Linked DNA regions of Homo sapiens: region 1 is linked to region 2. The links come from fine-mapping of genetic effects on gene expression. A gene starts in region 2. The other region holds a variant in brackets. All regions are shown on one strand. Distances are between the middles of the regions. Region 1 has its middle 11 kb from the start of CLEC2D. Region 2 holds the start of KLRB1 (killer cell lectin like receptor B1).

Region 1 (13,105 bases), 51 kb before region 2:
GGATAATCCAGGTGGGCCTAATCTAATCACATGGGTCTTTATTAGGGGAAGGCAGGAATGTCACTGTCAGAGAGAGATTTGAAGGTGCTGTGCTGCTGGCTTTAAAGCTGTAGCAAGGGACCATAAGCTAAGGAATGCAGGTGGCCTCTGGAAGCTGAAAAAGGCAAGGAAACGGCTTCTTCCCTAGAGCCTCCAAAAGAAATGCAGCCCTATCAGTGGCACCCTGACTTTAGCCATTTTGAACCTCTCATTTCTAGACAGTAAAATAATAATTTGTGTTGTTTTTAATCCACTTGTCTTAGTTCATGTGCCTGTAACAAAATACCATAAAATGGGTAACTTATAAACAACAGAAATTTATTTCTCACAGTTCAGGAGGCTGGAAGTCCAAGATCAGAGTGCTGGCAGATTTGGTGCCTGGTAAGGGCCCACTTTCTGGTTCATTGATGGTAACTTCTAGATGTGTCCTCACATAGTAGAAGGAACAAGGCAGCTTTGGTGGGCCCCTTTTGTAAGGGCACTAATCCCATTCATCGGTATTCTACCCTCATGACTTAATGACCTCACAAAGGTTTCATCTCCTAATGCCATCACCTTGGGAGTCAGGATTTCAACATGTGAATTTGGGAGTGGGAGATACAAATATTGAGATCATAGCACCCCTAGTTTATGGTAATTTATTATTACACAATAATTATAGCATATTGATTAAACTGTCTCAGCCTCAAGATCTATATGAATAAAAGGAGTATAATAGCACCTTCCTTGACTGGTTTGTTCTGAGAAATGAAAACTTCATCAGTTAATATACCTATTAAGTTACTAGTAATTCATACCTGCTTTAGGAAATATTACGAACTTCAACATCTAAAATCTTCCTGTCGATGCTTTGATCTGGAGAATATCTACAACGTTTTTCTTCAGGGCTCAGATAATGTCATTTCCCTCAAGTGTGGAACGTTGGCCAGAAACTCTTCTGATTGGTCAGTGCCTGCGTTTAAATATTCTGAATATCGACGTTTCCTCAAGACTAGGAGAAAGGGTGTGCTTCATCCTAGTGCATCATGAAAATAATCTGAGAGAAATGGATGGATGAAGCCCATTAGGCAGGGCAACTACTGTTAAACAGCTTAGCAGAGAAAGAAGAGAAAATTACCCTCCTGAAGAAGCAAATTCACTGAGCCCAAAGAGGCCATGGTGAATTGATCATGGGCAAAAATCATTCCATTTGCAGGGCCAGATACGTGAATGTGCAATCTGTGTGGTAGCACAGTTTATCATGCTTAAAGGGCCCCACAGGCGGCTTAATGCTTTATCAATGTCTCAAAATTATTAATAATTTTTTAACAAGATGTTTTACATTTGTATTCTGCTCTAGATCCTGCAAATTATGTTACAGTCTCTGACTCTGTGTGCGTGACAAGGGTGAATTATTTTTTGCTTCATTTCATGTAGCTTTTATTTTATAATTAAACTTTTTATTTTGAGCTAGTTGTAGATTCACATGCAGTTCTAAGAAATACTAAAGAAAGATCCCACATCTTCTTTACTCAGTTTCTCCCAATGGTAACATCTAAAAAACTACACTATAATATCACGACTAAGATAATGCCATTGATACAATGAGGAAACGAAACTCTTCCATCACGACGGAGAGCCACACCACCCTTTCTCCATACTGCCCCTTCTTCTCCACTCACCCATCCATAACCCTCATTCTCTATCTATACCATTTTGTCATTTCAATAATGTTACGTAAATTAAATCACACAGAATGCGATCTTCAGTAATTGGCTTTTCTTACTTAGCCTAAGTACTTTGAGATTCAAGGAAGTTGTTATATGTATCAATAGCCCATTCCTTTTTATTGCTGAGTAGTAATCCACTGTATGCCTATAACAGAATTTACTTAATTTTTCACCCATTGTGAGACATACAGTTGTTTACAAGTTTTGACTATTATGAATAAAGCTGTTATGCACATTTTATATACAGGCTTTTGTGTAAATATAAGTTGTCATTTGTGCGAGAGAAATGTCTACAAATGTAGTAACTAGACTGTATGATAGTTTAACATTAAAAGAAACTGTCAGAGTCACAGATGGCAGAATAGAAGGCCCTAAACTCTCCTTCCCCACCATCAATTCAACAGCAACACAGAGGCAAATTCCCATCATTGGAAATCCAGAAACTGACTGAGCCACTCCTGTACCCTAGGTGAGTGTGAAACTATCCACATCAAAACTGATAGGAAAAAACTTGCACACACTGTGATCATAACCCCCAACCCTAATACAATGCCATATGATCGGGAAGGAACTCCCATCTCTTAGTCTATCCCTGAGGAGTGAAGGGTTTGGACCACCTATCTGGTATCACAACTTCTCTAGATACTACCAGATAGACTGGTTTCTAATTTCCCTGTTTTGGTGAGCTGACAGGGCCCAGCATCTGCTAAACCTCTGGGGCTACACAAACCAAAACAGCAGTTGCTTTTAAAATAATAATTGTTATAGCCCTGTTACTTCAAATATTTTCAGAGCGGTTTTTAATAAGCATGTGGGCACTTCCCCCTGCTCCCCACTTTGGCTCAGTGCAGTGATAAAGCCTGGCTTCCAGCTTCTCTCTGAAAAGCAAAGGAGACAGACCAAATAACTAGCACCCCAGCTTTTCTGGCTGCTACCTGAGGAACTGGATTTTATCTCATGTATCTGAGAGCACTGGAAGGGCCTGGCATACTCTAGATGCCTGAGGACCATTAAGAACAAACATTGTGGTTTCAACTACCAGGAAGGTTTAAGTGGCACCCAGAACCTCTGTCTGGACTGATTGGTAAAGGTGTTGTCCTATCTGAGACCTGTCTGTGAAGACTGGAAAGGAAGCTGTTTTATCTGGTGCACAGACACCAATGCAGACAGTCAAGGAAAATAAAGAAATGGAAAATATGTTCTAAATGTTACCCACACAACAGGTGGGTTCAGTCACTTGGCAGGTATCAACCCAATGACCACCGACAAGGTGGATTTAGCAAGGAGATTTTGTTCTTACAGAAAGTAAAGAGAACACTGGACAAAGCTCCCAAAGTAGTACCTCGCCAAGCTGGGAGGTGGGTCAGGTTTTATAAGCATAGGGTAGTGAGGAATAATCTGATTGGATCTTGCAATGAGGTGATGCTGGGAGGCAAGATCTGACTGGATCCTGCCATGAAGTGATGCCTGAGTTCTATCCAGTTGGATCCTGGATCCTGCCATCCTGTGTCCACCTCTTAATTCGGTCCCTGTACCTCAGTCTGAATGATTAGGTTTCCCTTGTGGTTGCACACTTGTTTCACCTGTCCATGCTCAGGTTACATGACCTGAGTGAGGGTCCATGACAACTGAAGAACAACTCACAGCTTTGTTACCATAAAAGTTGAACCATGCATGTTTATTGCTGCACTATTCACAATAGCCAAGACATGGAATCAATGTAGATGCCTATCAACAGTGTTCTGGATAAAGAAAATGTGGTACATATACACCATGGAATACTACACAGTCATAAAAAAGAACAAAGTCATGTCCTTTGCAACAAAAGATGCAGCTGGAAGCCATCATCCTAAGTAAATTAATGCAGACACAGAAAAACAAATACCACATACTCTCACGTATAAGTGGGAGCTAAATGCTGGAAACATGTGGACATAAAGATAGGAAAAATAG[G/A]CTTCGAATTAAGAGAGCAGGGAGAGAGGGAAGATAAGGCAAGTTCTGAAAAACTACCTATTGGATATTATGCTCACTACCTGAGTGATGGGATCATTGGTATTGTAAGATCAGCGTCATGCAATACACCCATGTTAACAAACCTGCACACGTACTTCCTAAATCTAAAATAAAATTTGAAATATAAAGAAAACAAAAAACAAACCCAAACATCTTGCTGGTAATACAGAAAATATGGCTCATGGTAGTGGAAGCCCCCATAAAGCATGTGTGATTCAAAAAAATAAGAATCAAAGCTGAAAAATGAAACATACAGACCAACCATATCTATAGGAAGCACTCTGTAAATGAGGTAGCATGGAAAAAAAAGATTATGTTGAATAAAAAAAAAAAAAGTTGAACCAGATTTGTTAGGAAAGCAGGAGCATAGGAAAGCCAGAGTGACACTATTTTAAAATCAACTCCATCTAAAAACTAGCAAGGCACTTCCTTGACAGTTATGACCTACGATTATAAGATGTTTACAGCTAAGGAAGCGATTTAGTAATGCTGCAAGGACAAACTCCTACGACAGCAGAATGTCCAGATGTCCCAATATCACATAACAATACATGCTTTTAAGGTAGCTAAAGTCATACTTTGATGTACTTATGCACTAAGATGACAAGGATAAGTTTCTTTATATCAACAAAATACTAAATTTTGTCACACTGACAGCCTACCCACATGTAGACATAGCTTAGGTTTTACATAGATTAAACCCCTATAAAAGAAGAGTTTAAAACAAAGACAGCACATTCCTCCTCCTGCTTTTGGAGGATGCCCTACTCTGTAACTGAGTAGCTTTCAATAAACTGTCTATTCTCTCTACACTCTGTGACTCTCCTTGAATTCCTTCCTGCAGGAGATCCAAGAACCCTCTTTCATGGTCTGGTTCAAGAGCCCCTTTCTGACAACAGATCAGTCTGGAGCAGTTACAAATCCCCTCCTTTTTATGTCCATTCCTCAATCTTGAGGGAAAGGGATGATGACCATTCTAACTACTTCTTGCTGATTAGGGACATAAACGTTGGTTAGAGTAATAAAGTTGTTTAGCGCTTTACTGTAGGAGTTCCCTGGTATTAGGGCTGCATTTCAGATGGAGTTGTTTCCATCCAGTTCTAGAGAAAGGTACAGAGAGTTAACAACTTAACATTGTTTGCTCCAGAGAACAAAGGGAATGCTCAGATTTTATAGCAAGTATTCATACCCAGGCTCCCAATCAAGTCTTCTACACAAATAAATGGTTAAAATTTGAAACTCGCTTAGTTTTCATTAGTCAATACAGCTGATCCCTGATTAGCTGACACAAGTGAGCTTTAATTGATTGATTTAGGTGAGTCTTGAAAGTCCCAAAGTTAAGGAGTGTGGGTTTTCCAGGAACTCAGAGCATTTGTATGAAATCTAGTTAGCAAATGGCTGCTTTGTGCTATTTAAATTTAGGTCCAGTTAGTCACTCAGAATCCATCTTGAAGGACTGGCTCAAACATGCTGGCAAACAGCATTGCATTCCATCCAACAGAGAAGTGGTTGGCTACCTGCTCTGGGCCCATCGGATCCCTTGCAGGAATCCTAGTGGCAGTGCAGTGGCCAATAGAGAAACTAGAGCCATTTACTTAGGAGAGGCATTCAGGAAAGTACTGGTTAAATGTGAACCAAAGTCTCTTGGGTTAAGTTGGTTCCTATTTCCAGCTGGAGTGAGTTTAAAGTCTCAAAGATTGCATGGGCAGGATCCTGGTGGGAATCTCTTGTAGACATCTGTTAAAAACAAGTTAGAACAATTCTAAAGGGGAGTCAAATGCTTAGCCAAAATATGAGGGTTATCATTAAGATGTGCAGGGTAGAATGCAGAAGAAATCCTATACCAAGGAGAAACCAGCTGAAAATATCTGGACATTGGAAACTTTATCCACTAAGTCCAGCATGGAGGCTTTCCGAAGATGTCTCTCTCAGAGATTTTGCCAACTCCAAGCCCGCTTAAATATGACTGGAAGTATTTACCCAGGTACAGCAGCAATGTTAGAAGTCACTGAGCAGGCCAGGTGCAGTGGCTCATGCCTGTAATCTCAACACTTTGGGAGGCCGAGGCAGGTGGATCACCTGAGGTCAGGAGTTCGAGGCCAGAGGCCAGTCTGGCCCACACGGCAAAACCCAATCTCTACTAAAAATACAAAAATTAGCCAGGTGTGGTGGCACATGCCTGTAACCCCAGCTAATTGAGGGGCTGAGGCATGAGAATCACTTGAACTCGGGAGATGGGAGGTTGTAGCGAGCTGAGATCATGCCACTGCACTCCACTCTGGGTGACAGAGTGAGACTCCATTTAAAAAAAAAAAAAAAGTCACTGACCAATAAGATCTCATTACTGACCATAGTATCTTATGGATCTAGTTTGTTCCCAATTCTGGTATCTAATGTCCCTAGCTGGTCAGATTTTTAAGAAGGGGAAGTCACCTGAATGTCCCTGGAGCATCCCTAGTCAGGATCGAGGCAAGAGGGTTGGGGGACTCCATCAGGACTGTTATAACCTAATATTGGAGGAACTTAGGAGAATTCAGGATCTAGTTCAGTCCACAGGCAGATAACAAGGACTTGAAGACAATGTACAGGGTTAAAATCTAAAAACAGGTGTAACTTTGCTTTCCTTAGAAGCATAATTTTTCTCTCCCGTTGATGATGTAGGAGATCTTAGATTTTAGAACCTCTTGAGGCTAGGAAACCAAACCAAAGCAGCCTTTGGATTTTGCTTATAATAAGGTTCTTGAACCTGCCAGAAAGTGACAATTTTTACTCATTCCCTGTAAAGCTGGGAACTCATGAAGCAAGGCATTTTACGCACTTTTTTTTTTTTTCTGAGACACAGTGTCATGCTGTCGCCCAGGCTGGAGTGCAGTGGTGGGATTTCCACTCACTGCAACCTCCACCTCCTGGGTTCAAGCAATTCTCATGCCTCAGCCTCTCGAGTAGCTGGGACTACAGGCGTGTGCCACGATGCCTGGCTAATTTTGTGTTTTTAGAAGAGATGAGGTTTCACCATTTTGACCAGGCTGATCTCAAACTCCTGGCCTCAAGTGATCCACCCACCTCAGCCTGCCAACATGCTGGGATTACAGGTGTGATCCACCACCCCTGGCCTCTATGCACATTCTGAAATATGACATTTCAAGCCAAACCTTAGCAATATAAATAATGTTTCCAACTGGATCCTGCTTATAAAGAGAGAGTGGATTTTTACTGAAGTTGTATAAATAAAACTAAAAATATCCACAAATAGTTTCTGAATTTTGAAGGAATCAAGTAGAGAGAAAAAGCAAATGCTTCCATATTTGTTCACAAAGGATTATTTATCAAATTATTGCAAACGGTAGATAGCTTGTGACAGAAAATTTCCTTGGCTCTGGAAAATAAAACATTTACGTCATAAAAACATCCTTATAAATTAATTTTACGTAATTAATTTTGTTTTGCTTGATCTTAATTAGCAATTTTGGACTATAGCTGATTGCGAACGCTTCCAAAGAAGAAATTAAAATAATAACTGTGAATGACAAAAACCCAGAACAGCCATAGGTAAAGATCTGATTAACGTTACCAATTAACCAGGAAATTTAAGTGCTTCTGTGGCATACAATCATCCAACATAAAAATTGCAATTATTACAGGTATCTCAGCATGTCAGTATCTTAGGAATCTCATAAAATTTCACATTTCTATAAATGATGAACTTACACAAACACAGCTTAAAGAAAGGTAAAACACCATTTCTTATTTGACAATGCTTCTAGCAGTATTTGCCAAATAAGCCTAATCATTTAATAACTCTACAAGAAAGACAAGCCTTTGGAGGAGCATATCTAGGGGGTCCACCTGGAAAAATCCCAGTCATTTTTAGGCCAAAAGGCTTAATTTAGGATTTGGATTCTAGAGAAACCTGCCAAAGATGTCAAAAAGCTTAAAATACTTCCTTCAACAGATAATAAGTCACTGCTAAGAATACTACTCATTTAATCAGAGTGACAACCTAAAGACCTCAGAAAGTTACATGGATGGAAAAACTTTTACCCTTTTAAGGCTCAGTTTCCCTAAGCAGTCAAAGCCTAATAAAGACACCATGAAGCACTGGGAATTATCTTGGTAAAACACAGAATCTTTGTTTTCTAGGCCAGTGACCTTGATCAGGGGAATACATTTAATAACAACATAGGAAATCCTAGTAACAAAACAATTTTGACACATTAAGAAAAAACAACAATATAGAATCAAGTTTTGCTGAAGTAAAATGTTGCCTTTCTAGACCTTTAAGATAAATCCCAAACCAGGACTAGACAGTTCTCAGGAAGGAATGTGGCAGAAATAGGAATTAGTTTGTAATTCAGAATGGCTGTTAAGGAAACATTGCAGAATTAAAAATCAAAGCCTCTTGTAATCTTACTAAGAACAAATCAATATTTTAAGAGACTCATATTGTTTTAATGTAGGAGACCAAAATTTAAGTTTTGTATCAGTGCATCTTAACATCAAAGTTCCATTTTTTCCAACTTTTATTTTAGATGTAGGGGATACATGTGCAGGTCTGTTACTTGCAGTTTTTCCAGGGGCATGGTGGAAGCTGCTGCTGATTCCACCATTCTGGAGTCTGGAGGATGGTGGCCCTCTTCTCACAGCTCTACTAGGTAGTATCCCAGTGGGGACATAACTGGCAACTGTAGACATAATTGTTTGGCTTGCTACAAATCCATTTTCTGTTCATGTAGATTCTGCCACTGTTGACTCCATTGTCATTCAGGAAGGCACATTCTCCACTTCCTCTGATAGCAAGCCTAAATCCAAACACAAAAATATTAAATATTTGTAAGTTAGACACCTGCATTTGTTCCTCCCCATCATCTTCTGCAACCCCTCCATATTTCAATGTGAATAAGAGAAAAGCAAAAGTCTGTCATTAATATTGCTTCATAGTAATATAAACCATTTCTGTATTTAGTGTCCTTTATGTCCTCAAGGTCCTTGCTTGAAAATCACAAGCTTATCATTCATCCATACCAAGCCCAGCTATGTTGATAGGTATTTAACTGATGCTTGCTGCTGTACCCAAATGAACTGCTGCCATTGGTGGTCTTCAGTCAAGATGATTTCCAGCCTCCTCCCAAATTGTTTTGTAAATGTGTGAAAACTAAAAAAAAAAAAAAAACTAGTAAATTCCTGAAAGGGCTTAGCTTTGATTAATGGATATGACTGGGTTCCTACATTTTATCTGCTGCAATGTAATGATTATATTCAAAATACCCCTTTGAAATGTTCACAGTCCAAGGAACTGTTACTAGTTTCCTTCTGGTGATAAAGCTTTAGGAGGGAGAGATTCCCATGAGTTCCCTGGATGCTTTCCTATTGTAAATGGATGCAACACCTGCAAGAGTGGGCTTAACAGCCTTGTGGATATCAGCTCCTCAGTGGCTTCCTATGATTGTAGAACCTTTGTTGCACATCAGCTATAAGTAGGGATTTCAGCAGTTTTAAATCAGTGGATGAAAGTGTAAAATTGTGAGAAATGTCACTGTCACATTAAAGACTTCAACTGAAATCACAGGTAAAGCTTTCCCAAAGACACAGCTAACCAACTGAAGAGCATAAAAAGGGTTTAGATTTCTTACCTCATATTGCAGTAAGTTTTCCATGATACTACATTTCTTATCTCATAAACACAACTCACACACATAACCATACATAAACACAGCAAAAGATGAGAAGTCTCAAAACATACATGTTATTATATTCCATGTTGTCTGTCCATTTCCAAATGCGATGGGATGATTCTCTTCTAAGGCCAATCCAATGGTCAGAAGGGCCTTTGTATCTTTTCAGGAAATTCTATAATAAAACAGAAACTAACACCATGAGCCCCTTTCTTTCATATTACTCTGGAGTCTCTCTTCCCTATCCCTTCTCTTTTTCACTGGCAGCGTGGTATAATTAAGCAGCATAAATTCTGGAGTGAGACTAATTCCCAGTTCTCAGTTTAAGTCATTTAACGTCTCTGATCCTAAATTACTTTATTTAAAGTGAGCATAAATCCCAGTTTCATTGGGAAATTCTCAGTTTATGCTTGTCATTCCACCAATGTATTAATGATCACTTTTAATGCCCTATATGTCTTAATCTAGATGACAAATTATATAATTACCTTACTTCTTAATAGAATGAGAACAATACATCTCATCTTACCAGCTCACCATGAGCATTACATGGGGAAATATATCTAAAATGTCTCACAGGGTTCCAGGCAGAGAACACACCCTCAACAAATGTTAGACATGAAAACACATCTCATGCCCCTGGAATGGGATCCTTCTTAGTATTTCAGCTTTAACCCTATGTAGCCGACCTGCCTCAGGGGGCTAAGTATTTAACAGAAAACATGATCCAAAAATATCTCTTACCAGTTCCTCCATAGTTGCAAACTGAGCAAGGCTGGCTTCTAATGAGACACAGAACGTTTGACTCAATGTCTAATTTCTTATGCCTTCAGAAAAATAAAAACATTTACTCCTAAATCTAATTCAGCTTTTTGGGCAAGCAGCGTATTTAGATGACTCTACCACTGGCTTTTCCTTTCTTGCTAAAAGTGAGACAATCACAATGAAACATAATAAAGAAATTTTCTCACCCATTTTATCTATTTTTCTGCTTACCTTCCTGAGGTCAATTTTGAAGTGTACATATCTGATTGTTGTTTTCCTAACTCATCACAAAGTGCCTTATCCTAAGCACAACAATCGTCAGTCCGGTGGTTTCCAGCTGGGTATCTGCACCCTTGACTTTCTGAAATTTACACTGACACTAACAGTTTCAAGGAAATCAATTTCTATAGCATCGACTTCCATAGTACTGTACTTTCACAGGGTCATACGGATGATTTTTCCATATCCTCCCTCATATTAGCCCTTCTTTCTCTTGACAAAGCAATGCTGAGGACCTATTACCTCTATACAAGAGATGATTTTTTTATGTATACAGTTCTCTGTACTTTCGTGCATTCTCAATCTGCTTAAGTAGAAGATACCAGCTCTTAAGGCCAGGTGATTTGCCTGAAAACATTTCAAGTAGAGATCTTACTTTATTTTTAATAAAAAATGACAATTCTGAGAGGAACTTGTCAGGAAATAGTTCCGTAAGCGGAATTCCTATACCCATAGCCTTTCTCATATCAATGGACGGCAAATGCATTCTTGCCAAGGCTCAAAAGAAGACAGGCTTACCTTTGACATTCCTCTGAGACGTTTTATCCAATTTGACATAAAATACTGTTGGCTCAGCTTTCAAAATATCCAGAGTCTGACCACCCTCCCCTACCTAGTCTCAATATAGCAATTAAATGATTATTCTACAATGAAAGTCACATCAAGACATTCCTCTCGTACAACTTCCCTCATCTAGTCTCCCTATTGCACTGAAGGTCAAAGCCAAAGTCTTTAACTGACCCTCAAGGTTCCTCCGTTCCTGATTCCCCATGGTATCACTCTTCTTCTCCATCTTCACTTTGCTTCACCTACAGCAGCCTCCTTGCTCTTCCTCAAATAAGCCAGGAAGAGTCCTCCTTCAGGCTTTGGTCTACTTGTTCTCTGCCTGGAATAGGTTCCTTCACATGGTTCCTCCATCTCTTTCAAAAGGTTGCTGAAATGTCACCTTCCTAAGAAGGCTTAGTTTTGTCAACCTATTGCAACCTGTTATACCTCCACCCTTATTTATTTTTACTTGTGTTTTTCTGCTGGAATATAAGTTCCAAAGGGCAGGAATTCTTTTGTGTGTATTTTGTTTGCTGATGTAATTCAAGCATTTCACACAGTGACAGGCACATAATGGAGCTTAATAAATATTTATTGACAACAAAAACATATGGAGAATATTGTACAGTTTGGAGAACAAGTAACTTACCTGACAAAACAATAGAAAGTGCAATCACACTTGTAGTCAGGACTGCAATGATGAACAAGCAACAATAAACCTTGACAGGAGTTACTGGAGATATAAGTGCTAGACATTGTCTTTGCAGAGTTTTATCTGTAAAATAGAAACATCAGAATCTCAATCTCAGGAATATCGTAGGGAGAAAAAATTTATCATAGAATCAACACTAAGATCAGATGTACTTCAATTCTCCTACTGCCAACTCCTTTCACAAAAGGGCTTGGTTCATAAATGAGAATAATGGCCCAAAGAGGGCTAGAGATAAAAATCGAATTCTCCCCACCCCCAGGGAATCTTCCAGTTACTGGAAAAAGAGTAGAAATTGGGATGAAAAAGAAACATACACAATCCAGATTTAGCCCCATAGTAAAGCAGCTGGTTAGAAGCAACAAGGGAAGCAGAAAATAAATCAATGTAATTCACCATATTGACAGAATGAGACAAGGGACAACATATGAGCATCTGAATAAATGCAGCAAGAGGATGTGAAAAGCTTAATATTCATCCACGATAGTAAGACTCAACAAATTAGAAATTGAAGAACTTTCTTCAACCTGATAAAGGGCATCTACAGAAAAACTACAACTAGCAACAACCTTAACGATGAAAGAATAAATGCTTTCCCCCAGTGACATAGAACAAGGCAAGGATGTCTGATCTCTCTCACCAATCCAATTTAACATTTTACTGGATGTCCTATTAGGGGCAAAAAGGCAAGAAAAAAGAAATAAATGTCATACAGATTGGAAAGAAATAAAAGCATTGCTATTCACAGACAACACAGTTGTCTGCATGTAAAATTCTAAGGAATCTACCAAATGGCTATGAGAATAAATGAATTTGGCAAAGCTACAGGATTACCTATGTTCATATATAAAAATCACTTATATTTCCATATTCATAATTATGAAGTGGAAATTTAAATATAAAAACAGTATCATTTATAATAACATGAAAGATATCAAATAAATATATCAAAATATGTTTAGGATCAGTATGATGAAAGCTGGAAACCAAAGGGACAAAGAAATCAAAGCAGACTTGAATCAACAGAGAGATATAAGATATTCATAGATTGGAATATGCAATATTGCTGGATGTCAATTATACCCAAACAGGTTTAGAGATTCAGTGCAATACTGATAAACATTGCAGTATGAATTTTTTGTAGAAATAAGCAAGGTAATTTTAAAATTATATGAAAAAGCAAAGAACTAGAATAGCCAAACAATTTTGAAGGAAAAAAAAATGGCCAAATTTGGAAATCAGGGAACCTGCTTTCGTAATTTACAAAGTAATAGAAACAAAGACAGTATGATATTGACAAAAGAACAGACACATAAATCAATGGAACAGAAAAAAGGTTTCAGAAACAAATCTAAACGTGTATCATCAATTGA
Region 2 (14,595 bases):
CATTGGTAGCTTGATGGGGATGGCACTGAATCTGTAAATTACCTTGGTCAGTATGGCCATTTTCACGATATTGATTATTCCTATCCATGAGCATGGAATGTTCTTCCATTTGTTTGTGTCCTCTTTTATTTCGTTGAGCAGTGGTTTGTAGTTCTCCTTGAAGAGGTCCTTCACATTCCTTGTAGGTTAGATTCCTAGGTATTTTATTCTCTTTGAAGTAATTGTGAATGGGAGTTCACTCATGATTTGGCTCTCTGTTTGTCTGTTATTGGTGTATAGGAATGCTTGTGATTTTTGCACATTGATTTTGTATGCTGAGACTTTGCTGAAGTTGCTTATCAGCTTAAGGAGATTTTGGGCTGAGACAATGGGCTTTTCTAAATATACAATCATGTCATCTGCAAACCAGTACAATTTGACTTCCTCTTTTCCTAATTGAATACCTTTTATTTCTTTCTCCTGCCTGATTGCCCTGGCCAGAACTTCCAACACTATGTTAAATAGGAGTGGTGAGAGAGGGCATCCCTGTCTTGTGCCAGTTTTCAAAGGGAATGCTTCCAGTTTTTGCCCATTCAGTATGATATTGGCTGTGGGTTTGTCATAGATAGCTCTTATTATTTTGAGGTACGTCCCATCAATACCTAGTTTATTGAGAGTTTTTAGCATGAAGGGCTGTTGAATTTTGTCAAAGGCCTTTTCTGCATCTATTGAGATAATCATGTGGTTTTTGTCTTTGGTTCTGTTTCTATGATGGATTACGTTTATCGATTTGTGTATGTTGGACCAGCCTTGCATCCCAGGGATGAGGCCAACTTGATCATGGTGGATAAGCTTTTTGATGTGCTGCTGGATTTGGTGTGCCAGTATTTTATAGAGAATTTTTGCATCGATGTTCATCAGGGATATTGGTCTAAAATTCTCTTTTTTTGTTGTGTCTCTGCCAGGCTTTGGTATCAGGATGATGCTGGCCTCCTGAAATGAGTTAGGGAGGATTCTCTCTTTTTCTATTGATTGGAATAGTTCCAGGAGGAATGGTACCAGCTCCTCTTTGTACCTCTGGTAGAATGTGACTGTGAATCTGTCTGGTCCTGGACTTTTTTCGGTTGGTAGGCTATTAATTATTGCCTCAATTTTAGAGCCTGTTATTGGTCTATTCATGGATTCAACTTCTTTCTGGTTTAGTCTTGGGAGGGTGTATGTGTCCAGGAATTTATCCATTTCTTCTAGATTTTCTAGTTTATTTGCATAGAGGTGTTTATAGTATTCTCTGATGGTAGTTTGTATTTCTGTGGGCTCAGTGGTGATATCCCCTTTATCATTTTTTATTGAGTCTATTTGATTCTTCTCTCTTTTCTTCTTTATTAGTCTTGCTAGCTGTCTATCAATTTTGTTGATCTTTTCAAAAAACCAGCTCCTGGATTCATTGATTTTTTGAAGGGTTTTGTTGTGTCTCTATCTCCTTCAGTTCTGCTCTGATCTTAGTTATTTCTTGCCTTCTGCTAGCTTTTGAATGTGTTTGCTCTTGCTTCTCTAGTTCTTCTAATTGTGATGTTAGGGTGTCGGTTTTAGATCTTTCCTGCTTTCTCTTGTGGGCATTTAGTGCTATAAATTTCCCTCTACACATTGCTTTAAATGTGTCCCAGAGATTCCGGTATGTTGTGTCTTTGTTCTCCTTGGTTTCAAAGAACATCTTTATTTCTGCCTTCATTTCGTTGTGTACCCAGTAGTCATTCAGGAGCAGGTCGTTCAGTTTCCATGTAGTTGAGCGAGTTTCTTAATCCTGAGTTCTAGTTTGCCCTGTGGTCTGAGAGACAGTTTGTTATAATTTCTGTTCTTTTACATTTGCTAAAGAGTGCTTTACTTCCAACTATGTGGTCAATTTTGGAATAAGTGCGATGTGGTGCTGAGAAGAATGTATATTCTGTTTATTTGAGGCGGAGAGTTCTGTAGATGTCTATTAGTTCTGCTTGGTGCAGAGCTGAGTTCAATTCCTGGATATCCTTGTTAACTTTCTGTCTCATTGATCTGTCTAATGTTGACAGTGGGGTGTTAAAGTCTCCCATTATTATTGTGTGGGAGTCTAAGTCTCTTTGTAGGTCTCTAAGGGCTTGCTTTATGAATCTGGGTGCTCCTGTTTTTGGGTGCATATATATTTATGATAGTTAGCTCTTCTTGTTGAATTGATCGCTTTACCATTATGTAATGGCCTTCTTTGTCTCTTTTGATCTTTGTTGGTTTAAAGTCTGTTTTATCAGAGACTAGGATTGCAACCCTTGCTTTTTTCTGTTTTCCATTTGATTGGTAGATCTTCCTCCATCCCTTTATTTTGAGCCTATGTGTGTCTCTGCAGGTAAATGGATCTCCTGAACACAGCACAATGATGGGTCTTGACTCTTTATCCAATTTGCCAGTCTGTGTCTTTTAATTGGAGCATTTAGCCCATTTACATTTAAGGTTAATACTGTTATGTGTGAATTTGATCCTGTCATTATGATGTTAGCTGGTTATTTTGCTCATTAGTTGATGCAGTTTCTTCCTAGCATTAACGGTCTTTACAACTTGGCATGTTTTTGCAGTGGCTGGTCCTGGTTGTTCCTTTCCATGTTTACGGCTTCCTTCAGGAGCTCTTGTAAGGCAGGCCTGGTGGTGACAAAATCTTTCAGCATTTGTTTGTCTGTAAAGGATTTTATTTCTCCTTCACTTATGAAGCTTAGTTTGGCTGGATATGAAATTCAGGGTTGATATGAAATTCTTTTCTTTAAGAATGTTGAATATTGGCCCCCACTCTCTTCTGGCTTGTAGAGTTTCTGCCGAGAGATCCGCTGTTAGTCTGATGGGCTTCCCTTTGTGGGTAACCTGACCTTTCTCTCTGGCTGCCCTTAACATTTTTTCCTTCATTTCAACTTTGATGAATCTGAAAATTATGTGTCTTAGAGTTGCTCTTCTTGACGATTATCTTTGTGGTATTCTCTGTATTTCCTGAATTTGAATGTTGGCCTGCCTTGCTATGTTGGGGAAGTTCTGGATAATATCCTGAAGAGTGTTTTCCAACTTGGTTCCATTCTTCCCATCACTTTCAGGTACACCAGTCAGACATAGATTTGGTCTTTTCACATAGTCCCACATTTCTTGGAGGCTTCATTCATTTCTTTTTACTCTTTTTTCTCTAAACTTCTCTTCTGGCTTCATTTCATTCATTTGATCTTCAATCCCTGACACCCTTTCTTCCACTTGATCAAATTGGCTACTGAATCTTGTGCATGCATCATGTAGTTCTCGTGCCATGGTTTTCAGCTCCATCAGGTCGTTTAAGGTCTTCTCTACACTGTTTATTCTAGTTAGCCATTTGTCTAATCTTTTTTCAAGGTTTTTAGCTTCTTTGCGATGGGTTCGAACTCCTCCTTTAGCTCGGAGAAGTTTGTTATTACCAATCGCCTGAAGCCATCTTCTCTCAACTCATCAAAGTCATTCTCCATGCAGCTTTGTTCTGTTGCTGGTGAGGAGCTGCATTCCTTTTGAGGAGAAGAGGCACTCTGATTTTTAGAATTTTTGGCTTTTCTGCTCTGGTTTCTCCCCATCTTTGTGATTTTATCTACCATTGGTCTTTGATGATGGTGACACACAGATGGTGTTTTGGTTTGGATGTCCTTTCTGTTTGTTCGTTTTCCTTCTTACAGTCAGGACCCTCAGCTGCAGGTCTGCTGGAGGCTGCTGGAGGTGCACTCCAGTCCCTGTTTGCCTGGGTATCACCAGTGGAGACTGCAGAACAGCAAATATTGCAGTACGGCAAATGTTGCTGCCTGATCCTTCCTCTGGAAGCTTCATCTCAGAGGGACACCTGGCTGTATGAGGTGTCAGTCAGCTCCTACTGGGAGGTGTCTCCCAGTTAGGCTACTCGGGCTCAGGGACCCACTAGAGGAGGCAGTCTGTCTGTTCTCAGATCTCAAACTCCATGCTCAGAGAACCACTACTCTCTCCCACGCTGTCAGACAGGGATGTTTAAGTCTGCAGAAGTTTCTTCTGCATTTTGTTCAGCTATGCCCTGCCCTCAGAGGTGGAGTCGACAGAGGCAGGCAGGCCTCCTTGAGCTGCAGTGGGCTCCACCCAGTTTGAGCTTCCTGGCAGCTTTGTTTACCTGCTCAAGCCTCAGCAATGGTGGATGCCCCTCCCGTAGCCTCGCTGCCACCTTGCAGTTTGATCTCAGACTGATGTGCTAGCAGTGAGCAAGGCTCTGTGGGCATGGGACCCTCCGAGCCAGGCATGGGATATAATCTCCTGGTGTGCCATTTGCTAAGACCATTGGAAAAGTGCAGTATTAGGGTGGGAGTGTCCTGATTTTCCAGGTACCGTCTGTCATAGCTTCCCTTGGCTAGGAAAGGGAATTCCCCAATCCCTTGCGCTTCCTTGGTGAGGCAATGCCCCACCCTGCACCATGGGCTGTCCCCACTGTCTGCCAAGCCCCAGTGAGATGAACCCAGTACCTCAGTTGGAAATGCAGAAATCACCAATCTTCTGTGTCGCTCACGCTGGGAGCTATAGACTGGAGCTGTTCCTATTTGGCCATCTTGGAACCCAATCCACCTAAGGTCTTGCTCTAAGGTTCTATGCCTGAAAATCTTTGAAAGAGGTGAAGGACCTCTTCAAGGAGAAATACAAACCACTGCTCAATGAAATAAAAGAGGACACAAATAAATGGAAGATCATTCTATGCTTACGGATAGGAAGAATCAGTATTGTGAATATGGCCATACTGCCCAAGGTAATTTATAGATTCAATGCCATCCCCATCAAGCTACCAATGACTTTCTTCACAGAATTGGAAAAAACTACTTTAAAGTTCATATGGAACCAAAAAAGGTCCCACATTGCCAAGACAAACCTAAGTCAAAAGAACAAAGCTGGAGGCATCACGCTACCTGACTTCAAACTATACTCCAAGGCAACAGCAACCAAAACAACATGGTACTGGTACCAAAACAGAGATATAGACCAATGGAACAGAACAGAGCCCCCGGAAATAATACCACATATCTACAACCATCTGATCTTTGACAAATCTGACAAAAACGAGAAATGGGGAAAGGATTCCCTATTTAATAAATGGTGCTGGGAAAACTGGCTAGCCATATATAGAAAGCTGAAACTGGATCCCTTCCTTACACCTTATAAAAAATTAATTCAAGATGGATTAAAAACTTAAATGTTAGATCTAAAACCATAAAAACCCTAGAAGAAAACCTAGGCAATACCATTCAGGCAACAGGCATGGGAAGGACTTCATGACTAAAACACCAATAACAATGGCAACAAAAGCCAAAATTGACCAATGGGATCTAACTAAATTAAAGAGCTTCTGCACAGCAAAAGAAACTACCATCAGAGTGAACAGACAACCTACAGAATGGGAGAAAATTTTTACAATCTACCCATCTGACAAACGGCTAATATCCAGAATCTACAAAGAACTTACATAAATTTACAAGAAAAAATCAACCAACCCCATCAAAAAATGGGCAAAGGATATGAACAGACACTTCTCAAAAGAAAACATTTATGCAGGCAACAGACACATGAAAAAATGCTCATCATCACTGGCCATCAGAGAAATGCAAATCTAAACCACAATGAGATACCATCTCACACCAGTTAGAATGACAGTCATTAAAAAGTCAGGAAAAAACAGGTGCTGGAGAGGATGTGGAGAAATAGGAACACTTTTACACTGTTGGTGGGACTCTAAACTAGTTCAACCATTGTGGAAGACAGTGTGGCGATTCCTCGAGGGACTAGAACTAGAATTTGACCCAGCCATCTCATTACTGGGTATATACCCAAAGGATTATAAATCACGCTGCTATAAAGACACATGCACACATATGTTTATTGTGGCACTATTCACAATAGCAAAGACTCGTGAACCATCCCAAATGTCTATCAATGATAGACTGGATTAAGAATATATGGCACATATGCACCATGGAATAGTATGCAGCCATAAAAAAGGATGAGTTCATGTCCTTTGTAGGGACATGGATGAAGCTGGAAACCATCATTCTGAGCAAACTATTGCAAGGACAGAAAACCAAACACCGCATGTTCTCACTCATAGGTTGGAATTGAACAATGAGAATATTTGGACACAGGGAGGGGAACACCACACACCGGGGCCTGTCGTGGGGTGGGGGGAGGGGGGAGGGATAGCATTAGGAGATATACCTAATGTAAATGACAAGTTAACGGGTGCAGCACACCAACATGGCACATGTATACATATGTAACAAACCTGTACATTGTGAACTTAAAGTATAATAATAATAAAAAAAGGTAAAAAAAAAAAAGTAGACACATACTATAATCACCTTGAAAAAAAAAGAAAGTCTTTCAAAGAGATAAAAAATTCCATATACTCCACTTCCTACAATTCTGGCAGTTTCCAAATACTTTTACTTATGTGAAAATGCTATCATATCCAAGAGTGCCTTTAGAGCTAAGCTAACAGTAGGCTACTGATCTTTAGCACATTGCTTTTTCTGTTGTGTTATTCAGGGGGCTTTCTCACATTTATGTTTCCATTTTTCACATTTCACAACTTTCTTTGGAGCACAGATATTTCAGGAAGATTTTAGAGCCTTTGAATAGCATTATGGACTTTTTTGCATTAATTTTTACTTTTACAAAATTGTGCTAAATATTATTTCTGTTAATTAGTGAGTTTTGTTGGGGGCCCCTTAAATTGGAACCCCAGGCTATGCCTCATTTGCTTCACTCTGGTCCTGGCCCTGAGAGAGGAACACAAAAGGGATGGTTAGAAAAACAAGAACAAATGAGCCTCCCAGAATTTTCTCAAACAACAGGCCAGTTAATTAAGGAAAGTAGATATTACATAGCTAGGTATAATGAACATGCAGTCAGTGGATTGTCTCAGTAATTTATGGAGATAACCACCAACAAAAAGTGTATGTGGGTGGGGACAAAAGAGAGACAACAAAGTACTGCAGGCAGAAAGCTTCCTTTTGCTGATTTTGCCTCACAGAATTGAGAGTTTGTTCTTACACACAAGTTTAATGCCACCTTCCTCTGTCTGCCATGGACCAACAAGCAATATATGCTGAGTTAAACTTACCCACAGACTCAGGCCCAGAAAGTTCTTCACCTTCATCTCTTCCTCGGGGTAAGTGGCTTTAATTTTCCTTTCGGCATTTGTATGTCTTCCAGAATTAGATCTTCCTGTTACATTTATGGCTTTAAATCATTGCTTTAAAGATGAGCAGTAGTTTTATATTAATGTTTAACGGGTGTTGCATGGCTTGCCTGTAGATAATCACAACTTTGGGAAAAAAAATTTAAACCTCATACATTTATTTTTTTCAATCAAGTTAGCATGAAAAGCAAACATCACTTGTCTTACTGAGCCTTGGTTAAAAGACTCTGAACACTTTAGGCTACCCTGGGCACACTGCCTATTGGTTACCCCTGCTCTACAGGGATGGAAAGAAGGAAGAAAGAAAGAAAGAAAGAAAAGAAAGAAAGAAAGAAAGAAAGAAAGAAAGAAAGAAAGAAAGAAAGAAAGGAAGAAAGAAAGAAAGAAAGGAAAGAAAGAGAAAGAAAAGAAGAAAGAAAGAAAGGAGAGAAAGAAAAAGAAAGAGAGAGAAAGGAAAGGAAAGAAAGAAAAAGAGAAGGAGGAAGGAAGGAAGGATGGAAGGAAGGAAGGAAAAATATTTTACATGTATGAACTAAGGAATATTTAAGACACATTGCAAACTTGCTGTAATAACAACCTACGTTATTCCAAATTCCTCTACAAAATATCAATACTATGATTAAGTCCCAGTGCATTTTCATCCATAATATTCCTTTCAGAATACAACGTGTAGGCCAGTTGCAGTGGCTCATGCCTGTAATCCCAACACTTTGGTAGGCTAAGGTGATTTGCTTGAGTCCAGGAGTTTAAGGCCAGCCTGGGCAATGTGGCAAAACCTCATCTCTACAAACAATACAAAAAAATAGCCAAGTGTGGGGCACGTGCCTGTGGTCCTAGCTACTCGGGAGGCTGAGGTGAGAGGATTGCTTGAGCCCAAGAGATCAAGGCTGCAGTGAGCTGTAATTGTGCCACTGTACTCCAGCCTGGGTGACACAGCAAGACTATCTCAAAAAAAAAAAAAAAATATATATATATATATATATATATATACTTTTTATACATATATTTTATATATTTTATATATATATATATACTTTTTATACATATATTTTATATATTTTATATATATATATATAAAGTGTAGGCTTAATGAGTAACATACTTCACTCTCTCAAGAGAGGGGAACACTTTCTGGAAAAAAAATCATATTCAAGATCAAAGATTTGAATATCATTACTACCTGATAGTTTCTAGTTTGAAAAGTATCACAGCTTAGAAAGAGACAAGCCACAAAAATACTCGAGCATATCAGTAACGAACCTACTTACCATTTGTTGAAACTGGCACTTTCCTGTGTCTCTGAAGAGTTAGCATTCTGAGTGAAAGAAGCGGGGAACACCAATGTGAGGTAACACATGATGGATAGCATGGCCTGTGGATGGATGGGAAGAAACTAGAAACTGAGGCAGAAAATCAGCATGAAATTATTATGACACATTATTATTTTCTGATATCTAACTGAATTTACTATCATTGATAATATTACAATTGTTTACCAATCTGATATTCATTCCATGTCATGCCAAGCATTTGACTTGTGCTGTTTTAAGACTGTTTAAGTTTTAAACTATTGAATTCTCAAAGTTTTAAGTCAAGAAGAAAGTCTTAGAGCCGTCAATTAAGTTTCAGTATAATTTTCACATAAGAGTAGAGGAAATCAGAGGGTTCTAATAACTATAGGGAGGATTTGGTTGAGTAACATTTTTTTTTAAAGAAAAGAGTAAGTCTTTCTTTTCCTCTATTCATATCTAGCAAAAGGTGGAAAGTGGGCTTTTGTCAGAAAATGAATATAGAGGTAGTGAGACTCTTCCCAAATGTTGCTATGATCCCAAACCAATGGATGCAGAAATTTTTTCTACTTGGATTGTAATAATTATCCTATAAAATGTCATTCTGAGAGTAAACCTGAAGAAAAAATAAGAGTAGAATAAAGCCAGAGCAAAATATGTGACTATAGAACACTGGTCTGATATTGAATGACAGTAAAACCACTATTGGTCTCTGGCTAAACTGCTGAGGCTGTGGTCACTCTGTAGCAAGCACGGTGATTGTGTCTAAGGCAGTCAACAAAACCAGAAGGAGAGATGTGAGTGATAACCGATCTTGCTTATGGCCAAATGGCCAAGGGTTTGGTCTGTTAGAAAAGTGGATAAGGTGTTTGCAAAAATGCCCCTAGAGTTTATTCATTCATTAAAAAATAAGCTCCTACTCTGCACCAGGCATGCTGTGAATACAGCAGTGAACAAAATAGAGAAAATTATTTTCCTTCATAGAGTTTATAGTAAAATAGAGGCACACTTGTGGAAGACAGTATGGCGATTCCTTAAGGATCTAGAGCTAGAAATACCATTTGACCCAGTGATCCCACTACTGGGTATATACTCAAAGGATAATAAATCATGCTGCTATAAAGACACATGCACACGTATGTTTATTGCGGCAGCATTCACAATAGCAAAGACTTGGAACCAACCCAAATGTCCATCATTGATAGACTGGATTGAGAAAATGTGGCACATATACACCATGGAATACTGTGCAGCCATAAAAAAGGATGATTTCATGTCCTTTGTAGGGACATGGATGAGGCTGGAAACCATCATTCTGAGCAAACTATCACAAGGACAGAAAGCCAAACACCGCATATTCTCACTCATAGTGGGAATTGAACAATGAGAACACATGGACACAGGGCAGGGAACATCACACACCAGGGCCTGTTGTGGGGTGGGGGTAGGGAGAAGGGATAGCACTAGGAGAAATACCTAATGTAAATGACGAGTTAACGGGTGCAACAAACCAACATGGCACATGTATACATATGTAACAAACCTGCACATTGTGCCCATGTACCCTAGAACTTAAAGTATAATAAAAAATAAAAATTAAAAAAATGGAGGCACACCATCAATAAAATAAACAAATAACTAAGTCAGTATAAAAGATGAGACGGTGTTAATGTTATTGAGAAAGATTTGAATATAGGATTTAACTTTCGGGGAGGGTAGCATATCAAACAGAATAATCAAGGAAGGCCTCCCTGAGAAGATGACATTGAGTCAAAACCTGACAGAAGTGAGGGACAAAGACATAAGCCCCTGAGAGAGAAGCCTTCTAGGAAGGTGACCAACAAGTGCAAACACATCGAAATGAAAACACGCCTGTGGTATTGTAGGAGGCATCTGCGTGGAGAGTGAGCGTATGGAGGCCAGATGGGGTGAGGGCAAAATGTGAAACCACTATTGGACTCTGGCTAAACTGTTGAGGCTATGGTCACTCTGTAGCATGGTGATTGTGTCTAAGGCAGTCAACAAAACCAGAGAGATGTGAGTGATAACATCCAACAGAAGTGGGCGCCAGCTTAAATAGGGACATATGAGCCATTCTACAGACTCAGATTTGCCTGATGAAAAGCCATTGGAAGGTTTAGAATAATGAAATGAGATGATTTCACATACTTTTTAAACTCAAATGGAGAACAGCCATAGGTAGGTATTTCCAGATAGCTAACGTCCGCCGGACCCCTGTAGTGATTCATTGTAACTTCATTAATTCTAATGTCACGTGGTGCCACAGAAACACAGTACAGGAGTACATTCCTCCCAGACACAGTACACTCCACTCAACTCCTTACATTTTAGCATGAATGAATAACGATTTTTAAAAGTCACCAAGTTGCCTTTTACCTATAGTTAAAAAAAAAAAACAACTTTTAGAAAAAAAGAACTGCTGTTCATTGAACAGTTACCATGTGCCAGACACTGTGCCCAGCATTTAGAAGAATTGTTTCATATAATCCTCTCCAAAATATTATGACATAGATAATATTCCACATTTCACAGATGAGGAAATCTGTGGGTTATGAAGGTTGAACGTATTTTCCAAAATAACATGTTCACATTCAGATTTGCTAGATCGGAAAGACTGTTCTTAATCAATGTTAGCCTTTAGTAATGAAAATTACTAAATTCATGTTAGTAATAGAATTAGGCTGGGTGCGGTGGCTCACGTATGTAATCCCAGCACTTTGGGAGGCTGAGGCGGGTGGATCACCTGAGGTTGGGAGTTCGAGACCAGCCTGACCAACATGGAGAAACCCGTCTCTACTAAAAAAAAAAAAAAAAAATACAAAATTAGCCGGGCATGGTGGCGCATGCCTGTAATCCCAGCTACTCGGGAGGTTGAGGCAAGAGAATTGCTTGAACCTGGGAGGCGGAGGTTGCGGTGAGCTGAGATTGCACCATGAGCCTGGGCAACAAGAGTGAAACTCCGTCTCAAAAATAAATAAATAAATAAATAGAATTAAGTTAACACTTAAAATAGTGACTATACAGAGCTTTCTCCACTAGACAAACAAACTTAGAGTTTCAAGGAAGAAAACGGTGGGGAAGAGAAGAGACAGAAAGGTGAAATAACGTACATATATAAAACTGGAAGGAAAGCCATGCCAGTGCTGTCTTGGGCTTATTGACTGCATGTAGACATTCTTGTATCACACCAGCTCTCATTAGAAGTTCTAGGCCAATATTACCAAGCTTGGTTTCCTCACATTCAGATATATCCCTGGGGCCTTGGAGTCTCCTCTAGGTATCTACTCCTCCCTGCCCCCCTCCACTGATACAGCATGTCCTAAATAGTACCAGACGATAATCCATATGTTACAACCCTGACCCCAGTGTATTATGGTTCCTCCCATAATCTTTGATCACATCTAACGCTACTAAATTCTATCTCCTCAGGGCCGTTTTAGAGAGAGCTGATTCACTTATATCAGTGTGAGCATCCTAATGTGAGAGATTATCAGGTCTGCAAACTGGACTGCACAACTTAATCCTCAAGGATACTGTACCATTAAAAGTAGAAATGGCTTCATGGCCGTTCTGAAACATATAAAGAGACTAAAGGATAATATTATAGTATATCTGATGCTAAATTTTTTAACATGTAACTCATAGCAAGTAATCACTTACATGGAATAATATTAGAAAAAATAAAAAGGAATAGACAATACAAATAAATCAATAGCTTCAGATAAATTAGAAAGCCTTTATTCATAAAAGCTCCTAGCTCTAATAATAGAATTTATAAAGTAATTTATAATTATAATATATCTAATATGTTAAAAACCAAATGAGAGCAGAGGGAGACTTACAATTAAATCAGAGATAGGGGAGCTATTTAGGCACAACTTCTAGCAGTGTAACTGAGCAATATACTACCAGAATAATTCCTTATCAGAGTTGATTTAATTTTGGAAGCTATATCCCAGTGTTTCTCCAAAATATTTTTATAAATCTCTCTTTATTTTTTTTCTATTAATTCATGTTTTCAAAGATACAGAGCAAAATACATTGATAAAGTTGCGATTAATTTATAACATTTCATCAATATAATCATAACTTTTGAAGAACATGGGAGATTCATTATATAGTAATTGATGTGATTACAGAGAAAAGCAGAGATATCTGACACTTGGTTTAGACTATGCGATGTTGTAGACATAAGCGCATGTTATGTTATACTAGTGATAATATTGAAAAAGGTATGCAGTCACAAAACCTTATCCCTTGATGGCTTGGGATCCCAAGTTGGCTTAGACCCAACTTGGAGATGATTGTTCTAGACAACAGCAAAGCAGAGGATTCCATGTCCAAGAATAGAATTTCTGTATACCACCAGCACCTAACATGGTACTTGGCACAAAATAGAGAGAGCCTCAAAAAATATCTTGACTAAATGAAGGTCTTCCTTCTTGGACAAAATGCTTTGACTTACTTCATACATTAAGACATGCACTTAATTTTTGTATAGCACTTGGCAATTTTCAAAACATCTTTCTATCTATCTCATTTGGTTCTTACACCAATCCTTTGTATACACACATGCATAAGCGTTCATATTTTATCAATGAGCAAACTCTGTTGGATCTGAGAACCCATCTTGCAGGACTCTACTTTTAGAATGATGGATAGAGGTTGTTCCCTGCCCCCATCCCCCAAGCTGAATCTAATTGTCCCTATGTTATCCCAAGTACATTTTTGTGCCAGATGTACTCCACTGAGTTAACCAAGGTTTTTTGTTTCGTTTGTTTGTTTGTTTTTGTGTTTTTCTTTTTAACTTTTCAGATGTCTGTCAGGGTTCACCTTGGCATCAATTTGCCCTGAAACTTAGCTGTGCTGGGATTATTCTCCTTGTCTTGGTTGTTACTGGGTTGAGTGTTTCAGGTAAGTGGGGCACCATCATCTGTTTCATAATACTTACTCTACTTCCATTACGTATCTTAGAGCATCTCTGTAGGGGTGGGTTGCCCCTACACACCTGTGGGTGTTTCTCGTAAGGTGGGACGAGAGATTTGGAAAAGAAAAAGACACAGAGACAAAGTATAGAGAAAGAAATAAGGGGACCCGGGGAACCAGCGTTCAGCATATGGAGGATCCCGCCAGCCTCTGAGTTCCCTTAGTATTTATTGATCATTTGTGGGTGTTTCTCGAGAGGGGGATGTGTCAGGGTCACAAGACAATTGTGGGGAGAGGGTCAGCAGACAAACACGTGAACAAAGGTCTTTGCATCATAGACAATGTAAAGGATTAAGTGCTGTGCTTTTAGATATGCATACACATAAACATCTCAATGCTTTACAAAGCAGTATTGCTGCCCGCAGGTCCTACCTCCAGCCCTAAGGCAGTTTTTCCCTATCTCAGTAGATGGAGCATACAATCGGGTTTTATACCGAGACATTCCATTGCCCAGGGACAGGCAGGAGACAGATGCCTTCCTCTTGTCTCAACTGAAAGAGGCATTCCTTCCTCTTTTACTAATCCTCCTCAGCACAGAACCTTTACGGGTGTCGGGCTGGGGGACGGTCAGGTCTTTCCCTTCCCACGAGGCCATATTTCAGACTATCACATGGGGAGAAACCTTGGACAATACCTGGCTTTCCTAGGCAGAGGTCCCTGCGGCCTTCCGCAGTTTTTGTGTCCCTGGGTACTTCAGATTAGGGAGTGGTGATGACTCTTAAGGAGCATGCTGCCTTCAAGCATCTGTTTAACAAAGCACATCTTGCACCGCCCTTAATCCATTCAACTCTTGAGTTGACACAGCACATGTTTCAGAGAGCAAGGGGTTGGGGGTAAGGTTATAGATTAACAGAATCTCAAGGCAGAAGAATTTTTCTTAGTACATAACAAAAAGGAGTCTCCTATGTCTACTTCTTTCTACACAGACACAGTAACAATCTGATCTCTCTTGCTTTTCCCCACAATCTCAACATAATTTGGCTACCCCAATCTTAGTGTAAAATCAATGAATAAAAAGTCATGAAACAATGTTTCTAACAGTCAGTCCATATCCACTTTGGATACCAGCCTTTCATATTTGTCTTCCTAACTGCCCTG

Evidence for each region. PIP is the estimated chance that this variant, and not a neighbour inherited with it, causes the effect. A credible set is the group of variants that fine-mapping cannot tell apart.
Region 1: its variant is the best candidate, but not a certain one, in a credible set for the expression of KLRB1 in whole blood (INTERVAL, PIP 0.76).

What each region holds. Positions count from the first base shown.
Region 1 is chr12:9,652,376-9,665,480 of GRCh38, reverse strand. It overlaps the pseudogene LOC374443. Among named protein-coding and RNA genes, the nearest start is that of CLEC2D, 11 kb to the left of the region's middle. The variant G/A (reference allele first, on the strand shown) is at 3,702.
Region 2 is chr12:9,600,331-9,614,925 of GRCh38, reverse strand. KLRB1 (killer cell lectin like receptor B1) reads left to right here and starts at 7,010. Exons shown (of 6, transcript NM_002258.3): 1 at 7,010-7,171; 2 at 13,327-13,425. The coding sequence starts at 7,087.